Linked DNA regions of Homo sapiens. Changing the gene in region 2 together with the main gene of any one other region gives a genetic interaction. Each region holds a gene or a part of one and is shown on either strand. Other genes may lie near its edges. The genes, in order: ATG10 and NLE1.

The links.
Region 1: of NLE1 (region 2) and ATG10, changing one suppresses a phenotype caused by changing the other (phenotypic suppression), as found in Homo sapiens cells (one large-scale study listed by BioGRID).

The regions. Positions count from the first base shown.
Region 1 is NC_000005.10:82,251,347-82,255,164, reverse strand, and holds part of ATG10 (ubiquitin-like-conjugating enzyme ATG10), read right to left. Parts: intron 2,604-3,818; coding exon 2,506-2,603; intron 1,852-2,505; coding exon 1,740-1,851; 3' UTR 1,736-1,739; intron 1,098-1,735; 3' UTR 1-1,097. UniProt on the Homo sapiens protein: E2-like enzyme involved in autophagy. Acts as an E2-like enzyme that catalyzes the conjugation of ATG12 to ATG5. ATG12 conjugation to ATG5 is required for autophagy. Likely serves as an ATG5-recognition molecule. Not involved in ATG12 conjugation to ATG3.
Region 2 is NC_000017.11:35,132,304-35,136,121, forward strand, and holds part of NLE1 (notchless protein homolog 1), read right to left. Parts: intron 3,149-3,818; coding exon 2,946-3,148; intron 1,196-2,945; coding exon 1,036-1,195; intron 939-1,035; coding exon 868-938; intron 147-867; coding exon 134-146; 3' UTR 1-133. UniProt on the Homo sapiens protein: Plays a role in regulating Notch activity. Plays a role in regulating the expression of CDKN1A and several members of the Wnt pathway, probably via its effects on Notch activity. Required during embryogenesis for inner mass cell survival.

The DNA.
Region 1 (3,818 bases), on a different chromosome or scaffold from region 2:
ACTCGCTCAAGAGCCCTCAAAGAGTACAGCAGAGCAGCTGTGGGGTTGAGAAGCAGAGGGGTAAAATGACCATTGTTTTATTACTATAGGTCAAAAAGAAATTTTAATGTTTAAATATCTCCTATAGCTTTTTAGAAAACTTCTAATTACTATGCCACACTTTGCTGGTAAAACATATTATCTCACAGTAAAATATTGTGTTTTTTCTTTGTTTTACAACTATCTACACAAACACCCACACATACACACACACACACACACACACTCACACTCACTCTCTCTCTCTCTTTTGGAGTAAAACAGAAATAATCTATTGTTCCTGAGTTTGATTGTGGGAAAATCACTTAAGATAGGTCATGTTTATAACACCAGTTTCAGGGACAGGTAAATCCAGTAATTTAATTTTTATATATCTTACATTAAAATGAACACACAAATACATTTCTCCCTCAATCTCCATGTCAGACAAATGGAAGTGAAGTACTTGGCCTAGAAAAGAATAACCTGCAAGTGCCCTAATAATGTTGGTATTCCTAGTATTAATAAGTTAGATTTGTTTTTTTGCTATTTATAGTGATGTGTCTTTTTTTTTTTTTTTTTTTCCCCGAGACAGTGTCTGGCTCTGTCACCCAGGCTGGACTGCAGTGGCACAGTCTCAGCTCACTGCAACCTCTGCCTCCTGGGTTAAAGCCAACCTCCCACCTCAGCCTCCTGGGGAGCTGGGACTACAGGAACACACCACCATAAACAGGCAAATTTTTGTATTTTTTTGTACCGACAGGGTTTCACCATGTTGCCCAGGCTGGTCTCGAACTCCCAGGATCAAGTGATGCTCCCACCTTGGCCTCCCAAAGTGCTTGGATTACAGGTGTGAGCCACCATGCCTGGCCATGATGTATCCCTTTGAAGTGTTTCTTCTAAACATTCAGCCTATCAAACACCAGTTGCTGTAGACATTTGTGTCCAAGGGAAAAATAATCCATGTCACATCTTGGTGAGATGAAATATTCCATGGTATCAGTCCTATTAAAGCCAGGGCTGGCCAGGTAAACTCTTGGCATTCTTCGTGCCGCAATTCCTAAACTCAATAGAAGAATCTGAAGAACATAAAACAAAAGCCAAGAGAATAAAAGAAAAATAACTGAGCAGTAAAGACTTATTTAAGAATATCAGTACTAAAATAAAACTATCCATTCCTGTCACTGAGTGCATGCTACTTACAGCAAAGTAAAATATTTCCTGAATTGGTGGCCCCCAACCTTTTTGGCACCAGGCACCAGTTTCAGGGAAAACCATTTTCACAGACCGAATGGGAGATGGTTTCAGGATGAAACTGTTCCACCTCAGATCATCAGGCATTGGTTAGAATCTCATAAGGAGCGCGCAACCTAGGTCCCTCAGATGCGCAGTTCACAATAGGGTTCACATTCCTATGCAGATCCAATGCTGCAGCTGATCTGATAGGAGGAAGAGCTCAGGTGGTAATGCTCGCTTGCTTGCCCACCCAGCTGCCGCTCACCTCCTGCTGTGAGGCCTGGTTCCGGTCCATGGCCTGGGATTTGGGGATCCCTGTCCTAAATAACTTGGTAGGGGACTGATTGGAAAACTAAAAATTAAGTCAGGGTTTGCCCACTAAAGATGAAAGCAAATTTTGCATTTGGTGGGATGAGTCTAAATGCAATGGAGACATTGATCTTTGTAACGGCAAAACATTAAATCCAGGCTTTTCTTTTACCTTGTTAAGGGACATTTCGTTCATCCTGAGACGTTGCTTTGGCATAACTCAGAGGTAGATTCAGCCCAACAACTGGCCCTACAATGCTCAGCCATGATGTGATATAGTTGACATTCCTAGGAAACAAGTGAAATACAGGCCATGCTAACGTTTCCATTGTAGTTTTTGGATGAATGGTAGAACATCAGTTGGTCACCAACAATAACAAAAGTGAGGCTTTCTTCAAAGATTTGTACCTACCACCTGGAATCTCAGCATTTCTGAATGCCAGCCCCATTGCTTGACAAGAATTTAAGGTCCAGAGAGCCTGTAAGGATCCCTCATTAGGGTAGTTGAAGAATGAGGTAAGGTACTGGCTCCTGACTTCCCTTGATGATTCAAATTTTACCCTTACAGTTTACAGCACTTACTAAGGTAGCAGAGTGCAGTGATTAAGAGCATGGTTCTGAGGCCAAAATGCTTAGATTCAAATCCCACCACTTAACTAGCTGTGTGACCTTGTTTGAGTGGCTTAACTCCTCTGTTCTGTAACTTCCTCCTCTGTAAATTGGGCAAAATAATAGTACTTAGCACATAGGAATGCTGCAAAAATCCAATGTCTTACTGTATCTAAAACTCTTAGAACAGCATCTAGCATATCCTAAAAATCATTGTGTTAGCCATTATTATTATTAATATTTCTTTTTTAGCCTAGCATTTAGAGTCACATAAAAAGATTTACACTTTTAAAATCAGAGTAGAAGCCAATGTATCTTGATGGTGTTTCTTACTTATTGATTTTCTGAGAATTCTTTAATACAGGAGTCATGAATTCATTCGTCTTGCAGGGATGAAGTACAAAAAAGGGTTGCCCAAGTATTGGATGTTCCTGTAAGAATCAGAATTGGTCCAGGATCAGTGTGAGTTACTTTGAAAAGGCTAAAATAATTTATCTGGTTTACTCCTTTAAAATAAAGGTTTGTCTCAAATTCCAAGTTATTGAATTAATATACAGGTTTATTTTCTATTTTTAAAAACAATTTATAATCCAAACATCAGAAGAAGTTGGTGAGAAAGGACTATTCATTGATAAAGCAGTATGGTCGAGTATAGCAGGGCACCCATTTTTGTTTACACAATATAAACTGTAGTTGCATTTTATCAGTTCCCTCTCTGTTGGCCAGTGTTTCTCTTTGGCCTATCATTATTCTTCAGTTTTTCTTCAAGGATGTTCACAAAGCTCAGTAGTTTGACAACCTAAACAATTCATTTTATTCACCTCTTTGTCAATGGTAAGAGACTCAAAATCATTTGCATATTTCTTTACACAAATTTTGTCAACATGTTGTTTCAAGCCTACATGTATCCAGTGCCAGTGGGCACATGTTCCACGAGTAGAACCAGGGATGGGAGGAGATGGCCTGCACTATTTAAATTGTTCTACTTCTGTTTGTCTCTCTCTCTCTTTCCGTCTCTGAGTTTTTGTTTTTCTTTTTCCTCATTTCTCTCCTTCTGTCTCTCCCAAGCCTACAGGGCTGTTTTTATAAGTTAAAAGCCTGAAATGTAACTCTGTTTCTTTTATAAGGTAGTAATTGGATATAAGATATAGGTCAGACCATACCCAAGTTAGGGACGTGGACATCATTTGGCAAGCAATGGGGAGCCCTAGGAGGTTTCTATGTAGTGGGTAATCTGTGCACAAGTTCTACCAACAAAAACACTATTATTGATGATACATTTATTGATTATTTGTATTGTGGATTAACCATTATACCAACACTGCAAACTCAAATACCTATGAAGACAAAGCAGGTGACCTAAGGGGATAATGCCAGCTAAATACACCAGCAGATGACGGGGCCCGTGAGAAACTGCCGAGTGCACCCATCCAAGGCCATGCTGGCTACTCTGCTCCAGCCAACTGTCCCATGTGGGAATGCAGGTTCAGCATGCCAGACCTCCCTATTTGTGAAACTAACCTAGAAAAGCTGAAGTTTATGTTAAACCTCCTACATTTAAGTGTTGGCATAATTTATTTTTAAACATGGAGTGGGACAAGTAAAACAGGCTTGTAGGCTGGATTTAGACTAGGGGATGCCTAGTT
Region 2 (3,818 bases):
GGCCACACGCATTCTCAGGTCCCCACTGGTGGGGAGGGTGTGTGCACTGCCATCTCAGCCTTTGTTCTCTGGCAGGGAAGGCAGCTGGCAGAGGCCGAGTCGAGGTGGGGGTCAGAGAGAACTTCGGGCCGTCTCATCTCCTCCATCTGTGGAGAAGGGAAGGGTGTCAGGATGGGGATTCCACCTTAGGAAAGGGAGGCCGTCATATAATCCCAGTGTCAACAGACGGACGGCCTGTGGTCCACCCTCAGAGTCACCAAGAGCCAGGTGACCGTCCCTGCTCTGCCCACCCAAACTCAGGCTGCCCACTCACTGCCTGCTGCCACCAGGACCTCCACCCAGGGCCTGGCCCTCGGGATGCCCACCAGCAAACAGTCACAATCCCTTATAAGCACACAACACTTTGTCTTCCAGAGTGTTGACCCTCCTATTTTTGATCCTGTCTGTGAAGGTTTGATAATTCCCAAGAGACTGATTAACCAAGTTCTCTGTGATTACTCCATGGCAGAACCAGGATTTGAACTCAGGTCTTGCGACTCTGAAGTCTAGTGACAGAAAGACCTGGATGCGCCCTCTACAAGGTGTCCTGTGGCCCCTGTTGTTCCGGTGGCCCTCCCACTTGCCCACTGACAGAAAGACCTGGACGCGCCCTCTACGAGGTGTCCTGTGGCCTCTGTTGTTCCGGTGGCCCTCCCACTTGTGGCCCTCCCACTTGCCCACTGAGAATCTGGCTCCACACGCCTCCTCAAGACAGTCTGAGCACCTGGACGGCCCTGCGGAATTCTATGCTGTAAGGGAAAGTGTGCACAGAAGGACCTTAGGGGTAGGAGGGCTGTGTATGCCAACCACCACTTCCCCCACACTCACATCCGGAGGCATTTGTCCTTCCCACCACTTGCCACTCTCTGGCCATCTGGACTCCAGTCAACAGCATATACCTAAAGGGAGGCAGAGGAAGGCAGGTGGGGTGGTGAGAGGGAGACAGCCAGCCAGGCTCCAATCCCAGTCCCTCCTTTGCCTGAGGGTTGGCCCTACCTCATCCGCGTGGCCGGGCAGGTCCATGGCCAGCTTCTGGGCCTTCACATCCCACACCTTCAGTGTGCTGTCACTGCTGCCGCTGACCAGGAGCCGACTGTCAGCTGACCACGCAATCTGGTACACGGCAGCCACGTGGCCGCGTAGGGAAGCCAGGTACCTGGTCCAGGAGAAGACGATGATGGATTTTAGTCTGAGTTACATCTTTCAACACGTCTGAAGGGTCCCCTACGCTCATGGCAGTGGTTCTCAACCTCGGCTGTCTGTTAGAAATACCTGGGAACCTTTACAAAATCACACTGCCTGGTCCCCATCCCAGACCATTTTTAATCATTACCAGTCATTACAATTTGTAAAACTTCTCCAAATGAGTAGCTTCTAGCATGCCTCTTGCTTGCCCTCCATACCTGCACAACTTTGCATGCCTTAGACTCCAACGTGGCCATCTGCTTAGCCCATCTGCCTGTCATCCCCCCAAACAGCAAGTGCCTGCTGACAGGTGGCATGGAGTAACAGTGGGCCCACTGAACTTTCACGTCAACACAGTCTAGCTGTTTCTCTTTGGACAAACCATCAGGCCTCTCTGAGACTCATTTTCCTTATTTTAAAAAGGAACCCAATTACCTATCTTAAAGGGTTGCTGTGTGAAAACACAGTGACGTCACTAACGCAGAGGTCCCCCCTTCAGCCCTAACAAGGTTTCCCTGGCTCTTTTTCTCCCCCTTGCCTGTGCCTTTGCCTCTCCTCTAATCCGATTAACCCCAAGAGCACTGTGCCTCATCACACCAAGGGTTCCCATACTTGAGTGGGTAGCAGAGTCACCTGGTAACTTTGTTAAAATGAAGAATCAGATCCACAAGGTCTGAGTTGGGGCCAGGACTCTGCATTTCTATCAAGCTCCCAGGTGATGCTGATGCCGCTGGTCTGTGGCCCACACTTTGAGGAGGGCCAAGTAACAATTGTACCACAAGCCTACCTACCACCACTTCACCTTCTCCAGGGCTACAGCCCTACCTCTTCAGCAGCTAGCTCTAAGATCACTTCTCTCCTAAGACATAAACTAGCATTTTTTTTTTTTTGAGACACAGTATCACTCTGTTGCCCAGGCTGGAGTACAGTGGTGTGAACTCGACTCACTGCAACCTTTGCCTCCCAAGTTCAAATGATTCTCCTGCCTCAGCCTCCGGGGTAACTGGGATTATAGGCACGTGCCACTATGCCTGGCTAATTTTTGTATTTTTAGTAGAGACAGGGTTTTGCCATGTTGGCCAGGCTAGTCTCGAACTCCTGAACTCAGGTGATCTGCCTGCCTTGGCCTCCCAAACTCCTGGGATTATGGGCATGAGCCACCACGCCCAGCCTGAACTAGCATTTTTAGTGACCACTTAGTGCGGGTCCTAAACATACTGTCTCATTAAATCCGTGTAACTAGGCTGGGCATGGCGGCTCACACCTGTAATCCCAGCACTTTGGGAGGCCGAGGCAGTTGGATCACTTGAGCTCAGGAGTTCAAGACCAGCCTAGTCAACATGGTGAAACCCCGTCTCAACTAAAAATACAAAAATTAGCCAGGCACGGTGGCGGAGGCCTGTAATCCCAGCTACCTGGGAGGCTGAGGCAGGAGAATCACTTGAACCCAGGAAGCAGAGGTTGTAATGAGCCAAGATCGTGCCGCTGCACTCGAGCCACTTGAACACCAGGTGACAGAGTGAAAGTCATCTCTAAAAACAAACAAACAAACAAACACCTTGTAACAAAGCTGAGAGGTAGGGGGTCTGCATATTACCAAAGAGGAAACAGTGGCTTAGAAAATCCAAACACCTGCCAAGGCCATACAGCTAGTAAGTGGCAGTGCCAAGCCCCTCCCACCATTCACTCCTTACAGAGAAGCAGTACCCACCCCTACTCACTTGCCCGTCCTGCCATCCCACAGCTTGATGGACTTGTCAAAGGAGGCACTAGCCACGATGCGGGAGTCAGGAGAGAAGAGCACCTGGTTGATGAGAGCTTGGTGTCCTGTCATCCGAGTGAGAGGCTTTTTGTCCTCTGCTGGGGACCACAGGAATAAGGTGAAGTCGTCGGAGCCAGACACCAGCCTCTCTGGACCCTGGCCCTAGGGGAGGCAGAAAGCACACTGTGTTGGGTGTGGTCTCAGAAAGAAGGAGGAGGGCCCGACTTTGGCAGCAAGCATACACCCTGATTACTCAATGCCAGGGACAGAGAGAGGCCAGCGCTAGGAGCAATGAGGACTGGCTTGGCCACTCACTCGCATGTGACCCCAGGCAAGTCACTTCATCCAAAAGGAAAAAGAAACTCTACATGCATGTAGAAAAAAATTTTAAGATACATAATTACAGAAAAAGGCACAAAATAATGTGTTAAAAGAAGGATTTTATGTATGTATGCATGTGTGTGTGTGCTTATACATATATACTGTATATAGACACGTGTCTGTATATTAAATCTCTGGAAGGTGATTCAGGATACTGGTGGCACTGGATGCTACAATAGAGACGGGAGACTCCGCGATCTACCTTTTGTATTTTTTGAACGTGAATGTGTGAACAATCTTAAACAACAAATTAAAGTAAAAAAGAAGCATGTTGGAAATGTAATAAATAGACAAGCAAATAAACTAAACAAAAAACGAAATAAAATGATCTCTAGCACATTAGTATTTTAGGATTGCAAACTAGGATTATGAAGAACAACTTTTTGGAATAGGTACATTCTGAGCTGGGTCTAGAAGGGAGAAGGGTCTGAGAGGGTTTTAGTGATTGGCT